Homo sapiens: one gene and its partners. The protein of the gene in region 1 purifies or fractionates together with the protein of each later gene. This does not show direct contact. Each region holds a gene or a part of one and is shown in the gene's direction. Other genes may lie near its edges.

Region 1 (3,500 bases):
AGTACCAGCTCCTCACCTCACAGCCCCTTCCAATCAGGAGCCTTCAGTCTCCCTTCCAATCTCACCATCCCCAACCTTTACTCCAAGGGTCATCTCCCATGTGATCTCTAACAGCACGGATATTTTCCCTGTTTCTGTGCTTTATTTAGATGGAGTAATCATATAGTACGTACTGTTCTGCATCTGGCTGATTTTACCCTACTTGTTTTCCAGTTTCTTTAATGTCCCTGTCTGTTTGTAAGATGTAACTGTAGTATGTGTGTGCGTTCCCATCGCCATTATGGTACCTGTTGTATGAGTGTATCCTAGTTAACATATCCATCCTACTGTTGGTGAGAGTTTGGGTAGTTTCTAGTTTTGGGCTCTTAGCACTGCCGAACATTTTTCTTCATGGGTTTGTTGAATACAAGTGCATTCCTGTCATGGGATTACTCAGGAGTGGCACACATAGTGTTCACCTCTCATCGGTGCTGCCAAATAGTTTGCCAAAATGGTGGTACCCGTTTGCACCGCCATTGTGTGAGGGTTTTTTTTTTTTTTTTTTTTGAGGCGGAGTTTTGCTCTTGTTGCCTAGGCTAGAGTGCAATGGCATGATCTTGGCTCACTGCAATGTCTGCCTCCCGAGTTCAAGGGATTCTCCTGTCTCAGCCAAGTAGCTGCGATTACAGGCATGCATTACCGTGCTTGACTAATTTTTGTATTTTTAGTAGAGATGGAGTTTCACCACGTTAGCCAGGCTGACCTCAGATTCCTGACCTCAGGTGATCCACCTGCCTTGGCCTCGCAAAGTGCTGGGATTATAGGCATGAACCCTTGCACCCAGCCTATTTTTTTTTGTATTTTTAGTAGAGATGGGGTTTCATCATGTTGGCTAGGCTGGTCTTGAACTCCTGACCTCAGGTGATCTGCCCGCCTCAGCCTCCCACAGTGCTGGGATTACACATGTGAGCACTGTGCCCGGCCTGTGTGAGGGTTTTGATTGTTCCACCTGCTCCTCTGCTCCTCACCAACGCTCAGTAATTCCCAACTTGTAGACAGGCTACTTACTAAAGGTTTACAGTTGTAATTCACAGGGAAAGCTGAGTAAGAGACAACACAAGGGCCAAGACAAGCCAAGCACCACTTGAAAGAACGCTTCTGATTGGCTATGGGGTGGGTGGAAAGTTAACCAAAGACTTTCCCCGTGGTTCTTGGCCCATGGTATAAACTGAGTAGCTCACGAGCTCAGGAGTCGGCCAGTCTTTATTTGCGTGGCTCTTTTGGGCCTTATGGTTTCTTCTTGTCCCAGGAAACATCATCTTATTGTCTCTTGGAAACTGAAACATCTTGTTTTGATTTTCAGAGGCGGATCTTAGATGGAAGTCTTGGCTTTGCTGCAGGGGTAAGTAGCATGTAGTAGGAGAAATGGAAATTGAGGCATACTGATTCTGACATGTGTCTGCCAAGGGCTGTCTTCAGTCCCTCCCCTTGCGACCTAGATGCATCTCTGTGTTCCTCAGGCACTAACACCTCCCTCTTATCACCTGCCATATTTATTTCCCAGCTTATCAAATGCCCATTTCTCTTTAGACAGCAATCGAGGTTTATTTGACAGCTGCCTCAGGACTAGGGAAATAAGATCTTATTTGGTAAGGGCCTAGCACAGGCCTAGCCTAATACATAGTTGGCTCTAACTAAATATACTTTTTCCTCCCCTTCTCCCTTAAAAGATCTTTTTTATAGGCCTTTTTTTTTTTTTTTTTTTTTTTTTTGAGACAGAGCCTTACCCTGTCACCCAGGCTAGAGTACAGTGGCACAGTCATGGTTCACTGCAGCTTCAACTTCTCTGGACTCAGGTGATCCTCCCAACTCAGCCTCCCAAGTAGCTGGGACTACAGGCATGTGCCAACGTGCCTGGCTGATTTTTGAGTTTTTGCAGAGATGGGGTTTCACCATGTTGCCCAGGCTGGTCTTGAACTCCTGGGCTCAAGTGATCCACCTGCCTAGGCCTCCAAAAGTGCTGGGATTACAGGCGTGAGTTATGGAACCCAGCATATTATAGACATTGTTAAACATGTAAAAATTGTGGATAGAAGCCTGTAATGCATCCCAGACACCCATCTCCCAACTTCAATCATTATTGACATTTTGCTAATCTCAGTTCACCTGTCCTCCCCAAAACTTCTTGGGAGGTTAGAATATTTTATAAAAGCTAATCCCAGATGACATGTAATTCCACCTGTAAATTCAACACACATGTCTAACTGAATGACTTTTTAAAAATAAACATAATCACATGGCCATTATACCTACCAAATTAATAATTCCTTTTTATGATCTAACATCCAGTCCATATTCAGATTTTCTTCATCTTTCTAAAGGTGTCATCTAATATTGTTTTGTTATAATTGGGGTCCAAACAAGGTTTCTATATTGCATTTGCTTGTTATATCTTTTAAGTCTCTTTAATTTTTTAACAGTTCATTTTTTTTTTCATGCTAGTAATTTGTTGGAGAAACTGGGTCATTTGTCTCTAGAATGTTGGCTGATTACTTCCTCGTGGTGCTGCCTAACTTGTTCCTCAGTCCCCTGTATTTCCTGTAAGCTGAGAGTTAGACCTGGAGTCTTGATTAGTTCAGATTCCATTTTTCAGGCATGAAGATGTCATGGTGCTGTGTATTGCAGATGTATTACCCATATCAAAAGGCGTGTAATATGTGGGTTTCCCTTTTAGTTGATCAGGGTTTGGTTTCTTTCTTCAGTTTTTATAGCCCTGCGATCTGGAAAAACTAGCCTGGAGGTGGAGCCTGCCAGAGGCCATCTGAGTCAGTAGCTGTTAGACTGGAGCCACTGTTCCGTCAAAAACACTGTCCTTTCTGAGCCATACACAGGTGCACAGAGAGTGTTGAGAAAATTAGTTTCTAGGTCCTCAGCTTCCATACGTTCTCTTCCCTATAACTGCTGTGCCTGAGAATGCCGGGGAAGCCAGCCCTACTTTCTTTCCTTCCTTGGCACAGCTTCCCTTTCCCACCTTACACAAGAAAGATGCTCTTGCCTTATAACCTTGTCTCTGGGTGGCATGGTCTTCAGGCAGACATGGAGGGCCCCTTGGAATGTTGGTGCTGGCACGGAGAAAGTGAAGGGCCTTGTCTCTAATCACTGGGCATAAGTCCATTTTTTTTTTTTTTTTTTTTGAAATGGAGTCTCCCTCTGTTGTCCAGGCTGGAGTGCAGTGGCTGGATCTTGGCTCACTGCAACCTCCGCCTCCCGAGTTCAAACAATTCCCCTGCTGCAGGCTCCCGAGTAACTGGGATTACAGGTGTGCACCACCACGCCTGGCTAATTTTTTTTTTGTGGTTTTAGTAGAGATGGGGTTTTGCCGTGTTGGCCAGGCTGGTCTCGAACTCCTGACCTCAGGTGGTCTACCCAACTCGGCCTTCCAAAGTGCTGGGATTACAGGTGTGAGCCACCATGCCCGGCCCACAATTCCTTTAGCAGTTCTGATGTGATCCTGTCCTTTG
Region 2 (3,198 bases), on another chromosome or scaffold:
AGTTTACTATGCCAGTGGTATTTTCTTGCATTTGTCCAAAACTGTCCTTCAGATATTACATGTTGCTCTCTGTTTCAGTATTCCAGCATTTAATGACCAGTTTTCCAAACCCATTAACCATTACACCCTGCAGTCAGTCTATTGGCAGATACTACCCAAAACTGTCAGAGAAGATAACAGTGTGGGGCCTTGGATCCAGACAAACCTGGGCTTACATTTCCATACTGACACTCATTAACCTTGCAAGCGTGGGCAAGTTCTTCACCCCTTCTGAGTCTGTTCTTTATCTGCCCACCTGTCTCAAAGAGTACCTGGGAAGTACAAAAGAGGTAACTCATGAAGCCCTCAGGCTTGGAACGTACCAAGTCCTTGGTAGATATGGCTCCTCCCTGCTTCCCTCTTTAAATCACTTGTTTGTTCAAGAATTTAACTGAATGTTCTTATTTGTATTAGTAGGTGGCAAGTGGGAGAAACCATCAGAAATTTTGGAAATCAAAGGACAGAACTGGGAAGAACAAGTGAATAGTCTGCCTGAAGTTTTCAGAAAAGCTGGTTTTGTTATCGAAGCTTTCACCAGACTACCATACCTGTGTGAAGGCGACATGTATAATGACTACTACGTTCTGGATGACGCTGTCTTTGTTCTCAAACCAGTATAAACACGTGGAGGTCGAAGTCTTCAGAGTCCGCACCCTCCGGGATGTGCCCTTGGAAGAGGGTCTGTGTTCACAATTACGTGAAGGGAGGACCCTTGGGGACCGCCATTCTAAATATCATGTAGGAATTTAAAAAGCCAAAATACTAATTATTTCTTTGTAGTGTGTAAAGGAATGTTTTTAAAAGACAAAAACCCAACTCTTTGTGGATTTTTATCAACTCTTTACTCAGAGCCACTCTCCAATGCAGGTCACACTCCAATTATGATGGAAGATATTTTTTATACTTAATTGCAGTAGGGACTCATTCCCAGACAAAGCAATAGTCACGACTTCATGGAACCAATCAATGGATTGTTTTTTGAAGACTGGCAATAAAGCTGTCCATTCAATTCCAAATACTGGTTTTAAGGTATAGCCACTGATATTCTTTCATGTTTAGAAATTCTTTCTGTTATTATTCAAGAAAATGTTTTTAATCATGCTAATAAACTTTTTTGGAGATGACTTTGGCATCATGTTTGAATTCATATAAAGCTCCCCTAGCATTTTTTATTGGTTTGGCTTCAGGAGTACCCAAATAGTAGCATTATGAGAATGACGCAGACAATTTGAATAGGGGGGAAGGAAGGCTTCAGACTTGGGGGAAGGGGAGATTATTGCAAATTGCAGTGAACACTGAGTCAGTAAAAAAAAAAAACAGAAACAAAAACCCAGCCTCATTCAGATACAGAACTTCAGGGACCCCTCCCCCCACCCCCCCAGTTAATGCTGCTGTGAAAAATGCAAAATAACCTGGTTCTGACTTTGTGATCACTCATGTCCCATACACTGAACTTTGTTTTTTTCTGGACAATCTCAGGTTCTCAGAATTGAAACATTCAGTTTTGTCTACTGACAAAATGCAACTAAAAATGTTTTAATTCAACTTCTTACTCTACACTTATATACCTCTCTCCCAGAGCTTGGCTCTTCCCTGAAATCCTTAAAGGAGTTTATTATTTGCCAAGAATATGGTTTGATGAAGACCGTGTCAGACTCATGCATTCTGGAATCCGTGAGTGCCTCCAACCATAAACCCAGAAATGCTGCCATAGAGGAACCCATTAGCAAGATCAATAACCATCGTGGATATTCCAAAGAGCAGAGCATTTAACCCAGAATCTGAAATCTCAGTAATAACAGAAATGTCAATATGAGATTGTGGTTATTAACAATATGTTATCCTCACTACTTTATTTCTTTTTTCATCCAGGTGTTTCATTAAGTATTCTCATTTATATGCTCATAGAAGTCATCAGATCAACACATTCACTCCAACACCTGGGTATAAAGGCGAATTAAAACCTGAAGAATTACTTTATTATTCATTAAGAACTGCATTCCCACATCCTCACACCAATATCTTCCACTGTTACTGTGCAGTCATAATAAGAGTTGGGTTATGTGATTTATGCAAAATTGTTATTGGTGTGTTCTAATGATTTTTTTCCAGGAATTCAAGTAAGTGAAGTACAAATACTTAGCACCATAGATTGTAAAAATAGAAAGAGGAAATGAGAAAACTTAATGTCGTTCTTGTACAGTTGAGTTTTGCTTCTTTATAAACTGTCTGTTAAAATCAGGGGTTGCTGTTAGACTGTCAAGCAGAAGTGATGGATGTTCAAGGAGGCAGGTTGCCCCAAAGTGTTTTCTAACTTTCAAGTAGAGAACTTTATGCTCTAATAAGAAAAATACAACTCATTCTTAACCACCCCCCCAAAACAGAGAAAACACATACATTTATGCATTTTAAAGATAAAAAGTAGTTTCTCAAAAAAATCTGAAGTTCTCTGAAAACCAGCTTATTAAAAGTGCTGTTTTGTGGTGAAAATTGAAACCAAATCCACTCACATTTCCTATCGGGTCTTGAAATTCTTGGTGGTGTGTCACCATTCCACTAGATGGCAGTGTTGCTTACTGAGTGTCAATGGCTTTTTTCCCCGTAAATGGAATCATGTTTTTCTCCCCCAAAGTACAATAAAGCTGCCTTGTCTGCACCATTCCTCGTGTAAGTGCTTCATATCAAGTTAAGACTGTACTAGAGAAATTAAGAAGAGCTTTATTTGTGGTAAAAGCAAGCTAACCAATTGACCTTAAAGGTTGAAATGCAAGCCACACCTCTGATTCCTAGCTCCCTGCACCTGCATTTTAAGCTCCTAAAGTGCTCAGACCACTGATCTCAGAGAAGGGGAGGAAAGGAGGTACAGTGCCCTTAGTCATTTATCCCTTGTACAGAGTAGTTAAAAGCAGTACTGTATTTTCTGCCATCCAGTGTGACCTGTCATCAGTTTTTACATGGTTGGCTTTTAACAGAAAAAAGTTGAGTTGGAAAATAAAGTGTAGATGTTTCAAGTCTTCCTGAGCAAAGCTTTGTTTTCACTTGGTTCTGAGTATAGTATTAATAGGCTATACTGCGTATGTTATTTACAGTATTAATGAAGCAAGATGTTTTCATTAATTGCTTCCCACTACTTGGTTACTGATGGAGGTGTTACATGAT
Region 3 (2,438 bases), on another chromosome or scaffold:
TGGCCTTAGCTATTGACCCCACTCTCTTCGCTGGCAGCCGGGCCCCTCCCTCCAGGAGGGTGCGCTCTGAGCAGGCTCTCCTTGCATCGTGCATCTTGTGGCCAAGCTAGTGGCCAGGTGGAGACCTCCAAAGGCGCGGTTTCCAGAACCCGGGCTCAGTGGGGCTGTCCTTCCTGTCCTGTCGGTGGCCTCCGTTGTTGGAGGCCTCCAGGTCCCACATCTGCAGCAGCAGGCGCGGGGCATGCGCTGCAGGGCTGCCTGGGAGGGACAGCGCTGCTTCCAAACAGCCGTGAGCCCCGCGGGGATCCAGAGCCCGGAGCCCTGTGCGCTGTTCCGGCAGCTGAGGCTCGGCTGGGTCCTCCTCTCCCTGGCCCTGGGCGGGGCGCTCACGCTAGGGCTCTGACCTTGTTCCAGAAGGCGGGAGGCGGCAGGAGAGCGCTGGGTGCGCCTGCGAGGAGGCCGCCCCCGCGGGGGTGCTGCCTGAGCTGCCTACGGAGGCGCCCCCTGGGGACGCCCTTGCCGATCCCCCGTCGGGCACCACTGAGGAGGAGGAAGAGCAGCCTGGGAAGGCCCCGGACCCGCAGGACCCCCAGGACGCGGAGTCCGACTCTGCCACCGGATCGCAGAGGCAGTCCGTCATCCAGCAGCCTGCCCCGGACAGGGGCACGGCGAAACTGGGAACCAAGAGGCCGCACCCCGAGGATGGGGACGGGCAGAGCCTCGAGGGCGTCTCTAGCTCCGGCGACAGCGCAGGGCTGGAGGCCGGGCAGGGCCCTGGGGCTGACGAGCCGGGCTTGTCCCGCGGGAAGCCCTATGCCTGCGGCGAGTGCGGGGAGGCCTTCGCGTGGCTCTCGCACCTGATGGAGCACCACAGCAGCCATGGCGGCCGGAAGCGCTACGCCTGTCAGGGCTGCTGGAAGACCTTCCACTTCAGCCTGGCCCTAGCCGAGCACCAGAAGACCCACGAGAAGGAGAAAAGCTACGCGCTGGGGGGCGCCCGGGGCCCCCAACCGTCCACCCGCGAAGCCCAGGCGGGGGCTAGGGCGGGCGGTCCCCCAGAGAGCGTGGAGGGCGAGGCTCCCCCCGCACCCCCAGAGGCGCAGAGGTGAGCCGCTGTGCTGTCCCGTTCCGGAGGGGCCGCTTTGCCGGCCGTGAATCCCAGACGAGGCATTGGGCCTTTCCACGCCCCTGGGTGGCGGCTTCCTGTGGTGTTTGTGGACGTCCTCTGCCTGTGCCCTGAATCCGCTCCTGAGGCTAAGCGCTCCCAACGAGAAGGGTCCACGGGAAGCCCTCACCTCTGTAAACACACCCTGGGCCAGCGCTCGCATCCGAGGGGAGCCGCCGGATGTGGAAGAAGACTCGGCTTTCCTGCAGCCATTTAGTGCCGCCCCATGCTAGGTTATTTGACATTGTGCAGTGTAGAGTTGCCTTAAAGTGCGTGATCTGCCAGTGCTTTCTTCAAGTCACCCTTGCCCCGATTCCTCCTGTTTGCGCTCCCCAGGGTTGCTCAAGTGGAAATTTTGTCAGCTGTTTAGCCTTTTCGTACTTGGCGTGATGTCAACTTCACTTCTAATCTGCAAAAGCAGAAGCTGTTTCCTAGTTTACCTCGCGTGTGTTTACCTATATGGAGTAGCTCGCAGAGATCACAGAAATGCTTGCAGCCTAAGGCAGGGTTTTCAGACCGTGGGTCCCAGCCCATTTAGTAAAATGGGAAATCAATTAGCAAGTGGTCACCAGCATTACACAGCAATGAAGCAGAATAAAGTAGGCCAGAATGCATCATGTAGTAAAGGCAAATACTGTTTTGTGAAACTTTTCACCCATACATCTAAATGTGAGAACTGGTTGCAATGTAAGACATTTCTTGCTGGGAAGTTGTGAGCAAAATAAGTTGAAAACACTAATAAAGATCTGTCTGTCTGAGCAAAGGAGACTAAACTCCTTGGGCTACATAAGGTGATCTTTTCATTGATTGCATTTATTCTCAAGATTACAGTATCATTCCCATTGCCTGCGCATAAACTTAACTGCTCCCTGCGCATAAACTTAACTGCTCCCTGTAGATACAGAAACTGGTGCCTCTTTTTCTGTCACTGTGTTTGAGCAGGCAGTCTGTTGTAATGACCCCCAAATCACAGAGACTTAGTAAGTACTTATTCATGGGCCGGGCGTGGTGGCTCACACCTGTAATCCCAACACTTTGTGAGGCTGAGGCAGGCAGATCATGGAGTTTGAGACCAGCCTGGCCAACATGGTGAAACCCTGTCTCTACTAAAAATACAAAAAATTAGCCAGCTGTGGTGATGCGTGCCTGTAATCCCAGCTACTCAGGAGGCTGAGGCAGGAGAATTGCTTGAACCTGGGAGGCGGAGGTTGCAGTAAGCCAAGATTGTGCCACTGCACCCTAGCCTAGGTGACAGTGCAAGACTCCATCTCAG
Region 4 (3,335 bases), on another chromosome or scaffold:
ATTTTCCATTGCTCCAAAAGTTACCTTGTGCCTATTAGTAATCAACTCCTGTTTTGTTTTTGTTTTTTGTTTTTTGTTTTTTTAATATTTTAAAGTTTCTCAGTTAAGACTGGGCACGGTGCCTTATGCCTGTAATCCCAGACCTTGGGAGGCTGAGGTGGGAGGATCACTTGAGCCAAAGAGTCCAAGACCAGCCTAGGCAACATAGTGAGACCCATCTCTACAAAAGAAATTGAAAAATTAGCCGGGTGCGGTGGCATGCACCTATAAGTCCTAGCTACTCAGGAGGCTGAGGTGGGAGGATTGCTTGAGCCCAGGAGCACTGCAGTGAGCAGAGATCAGGCCACTGCATTCCAGCCTCGGCGACAGAGTGAGACCCCATCTCAAGAAAACAAAAAACAAAAAAGTTTCTCATTTATATAGCTATGATCATTTCAGAAATGACCTATGCTATGTTTTCATTATTAATAATTCTAAGAAAGGTAATGAAAGTTTAATGCGGTAGAAGAGTAAATAATTCAACATAAAACTACCTCTTGGCATTTATTCTTCTTCTGTTAGGTTTTTTGAGAAGATTTTCCTAGAGGCTCTCAGATAATCTTTCTCAGAGGGTGAGATCATGTGTGATACGCTTAAAGCACTGGGGTCAGTCGGGGCACACTGGTGTTCATTGCTGCTGTGATTTTGTTGTTGTGAAATGATTTTTCTTTGCCGTGTAATGTTCTGGAGGTTCCATGAAATCCACTGATAATTCTTTAAAGGAGAGGAAGCCAGCTTAAACTAAAGGTTCTTAATTATTTCAAGCAAATTAATATAATTTTTAAAATAAATTTTACACATATTTTTCTTAGAACAATTTCGCTATGTTCAAAATGTATCATGATCTATAGAAAAACTGAAAATCATGAGAATTCTAGTTTTAATTTTATTCTCATCATTCTCAATAGACACTTGGGTGAATAACTCTGGGAAAATCTCTCTGATATCTTCTCTCTCTCTCTGTCTCTCTCTCCAGGCCCACATATCCACACATTTATGAACATACATGTCAGAAAAGCATATCTAATTCTATGTGCATATATATGCATACTTTCAAAATAAAGTCCTTCATTAATTGGAGTATAGCAGATAAATATATCTTAAGCAGCAGTTCAGTGAATGTTCACATATTAAATGCACACATATGACCACCACCTGGATAAATAAAAGAACATTACCAGCACTCCAGAAGCTTCCCTCTTCTTGATTCTTGATCATTATTCCAACAGCAAACCATATAGGTTAGCTTTACCTGTTTCTGAATTTCACATAAATGGAATAATACAAAATGTATATGGCTTCTTTCATTTTTTGTGAGATTCATCCATGTTGTTGCAAGTAGTATTTCAAGTATTTAATTGATGTATTGTTTTTCATTACATGAATATACTACATTTATTCTGTTCTTGATGTAAATTTAGGTTATTTTCAGTTTTGGAGTATGAATAATGCAGCTACGAAAATTATTCTATATATATTTAGGTGTATGTATGTATATATATATATGTATTTCTATTGGGCATATATCTAAGAGAGAATTACTGACTCATAGGGAATATGTATGTTCATTTTAGTTGATACGGGTTTTCTCAGTGATAGAACCAAGTTATATTCTCACTAGCAGTGTATGAGAGTTCCAAATTTTCCACTGCCTTCACAATGCACAGTATTATCTATCTGTTTTTTTGTGGATCCATCACGTTATCCCATAGTAATTTTAAGTTGCTTTACCTTGATGATGAATAAAGTAGAGAATGTTTTTATATGTCTATTGAGTATTTGCATACTCTTTTGTGAAGTACTCATTCAGGTTTTCTTTGTCACTTTTCTGCTAGGTTTGTCCTTCCTTTTTTCCTTATTTGTATAAGTTTATTATATGTTCTGGGAATTGGTTCTTTTTCATAAAATCTATTGAATTTTTTTTCTCCTGCTCTGTAATTGCCCTTTATTATTTTCCTAATGGTGTTTTTAAAGAACAAGGTTCTTAACTTTAACATAATGTAATGTATTAGTCTGTTTTAATGGTTAGTGCCTTATGCCCTATTTATAAAATCTTCACATACCCAAAAGTCTTGCAGATATTTTCATGTAAGTTCTAGAAACTTTTTAAAGCCTTTTTCTAAAATAAACCTTTATGTTTACATCAACAGGTCATCCATTGTAGGATGTAGGGGATCCGTTTTTACTTTTTTCCCTTATATGAATATCCTACTGATCTGGCACTAATTACTTAAAAGACCACCCTTTCTCCAAACTGTAAGCTCTATTTTATATTTCTATTACTTTGCTAATTTTTTTCAAGTCTCTTCTTCCTACGTTTTTCACAAATCTCTTTTTATGCTTCTTGCAATATGTCTATCAATGATTTTATTTTTTTCTCCCTTTTTTCCTTAGCCCTGCCAGTTTACTTTTTATCTTTTTTAAGCTTATTTGTCTATTAATTGAGTTTTTTTTTTGAAGAGGCTGTTTTTTTAAATTTATGTACAATTTGTACCTGCTTCTGATGAGTATTCTTAAGTTTGCAATATTTCTTTCTTCTTATTCATCAGTATATTTGCAGACATGGTGCTGCTGGCCTTTTTTCTTCTTTTTCACCTCCTTCTCCTCATCCCCTCTTTTCTTCCTTCTTTTTATTGTTCATAATCACGTATCTCGAGTGGGTATAATGGAGGTGTCTTAATCGACTGGCAGAAAAGGAAGAATCAGCTGGCGGTTTGAACTTTGTCCTCATAACTACATATTTTTTTTCATTTTTGTTTCTGCCTGAACTAGTGAATTTGTTCTAGACTAGCAGAAAGTCTTTTTGTTTCATAAGGATGTCAAGCATGTCTATTTTGGGTATGATACTTTACATCAGGAGTGTAGATCAGTATAGTTTCCGTTTCACCTTATCTTACCAAGAACTTACTCGGTAAAAATAGTATATCAGGATGCTAAATGAAATTTACGACTCCCCTGGCAAATAACTTCTTATTGCCATTCCAAACAACAGGTCATTGGTTTTCCTCCTTAGGGTGAATCCTTATTTTGGAAGACTCATGCTGTGTCCATTCTGTCTCTCTCCTTCTCCGTGATCTGTTATGGGGTTATGGACACAGTCAATTGTTGTTTTATGTATAGCTAGAGGTTCATTTGCAATATTTGAGCCTATGAACCTGACATTTGTGCTCTCACTCATATATAGAAATCAAAAAGTTGATTTCATAGGACTAGAGTGTGGAATGTTGGTTACCAGGGGCTAAGCCAGCTGGAGAGAGGGGTTGGGGAGATTTTTGTCAAATGATACCACATTTCAG

What was found. The genes of interacting proteins can lie anywhere in the genome.
Region 2: the proteins of SLC39A11 (region 1) and METTL9 purify together in Homo sapiens (co-immunoprecipitation; one large-scale study listed by IntAct). This does not show direct contact.
Region 3: the proteins of SLC39A11 (region 1) and ZSCAN18 purify together in Homo sapiens (affinity purification with mass spectrometry; one large-scale study listed by BioGRID and IntAct). This does not show direct contact.
Region 4: the proteins of SLC39A11 (region 1) and CHSY3 purify together in Homo sapiens (affinity purification with mass spectrometry; one large-scale study listed by BioGRID and IntAct). This does not show direct contact.

Annotation. Positions count from the first base shown.
Region 1 is NC_000017.11:73,082,689-73,086,188, reverse strand, and holds part of SLC39A11 (zinc transporter ZIP11), read left to right. Parts: intron 1-1,342; coding exon 1,343-1,381; intron 1,382-3,500. UniProt on the Homo sapiens protein: Zinc importer that regulates cytosolic zinc concentrations either via zinc influx from the extracellular compartment or efflux from intracellular organelles such as Golgi apparatus. May transport copper ions as well.
Region 2 is NC_000016.10:21,654,774-21,657,971, forward strand, and holds the end of METTL9 (protein-L-histidine N-pros-methyltransferase isoform 1 precursor), read left to right. Parts: intron 1-453; coding exon 454-659; 3' UTR 660-2,698; downstream 2,699-3,198. UniProt on the Homo sapiens protein: Protein-histidine N-methyltransferase that specifically catalyzes 1-methylhistidine (pros-methylhistidine) methylation of target proteins.
Region 3 is NC_000019.10:58,083,356-58,085,793, reverse strand, and holds the end of ZSCAN18 (zinc finger and SCAN domain-containing protein 18), read left to right. Parts: intron 1-414; coding exon 415-1,109; 3' UTR 1,110-1,938; downstream 1,939-2,438. UniProt on the Homo sapiens protein: May be involved in transcriptional regulation.
Region 4 is NC_000005.10:130,180,465-130,183,799, forward strand, and holds part of CHSY3 (chondroitin sulfate synthase 3), read left to right. Parts: intron 1-1,995; exon of another isoform or gene 1,996-2,295; intron 2,296-3,335. UniProt on the Homo sapiens protein: Has both beta-1,3-glucuronic acid and beta-1,4-N-acetylgalactosamine transferase activity. Transfers glucuronic acid (GlcUA) from UDP-GlcUA and N-acetylgalactosamine (GalNAc) from UDP-GalNAc to the non-reducing end of the elongating chondroitin polymer.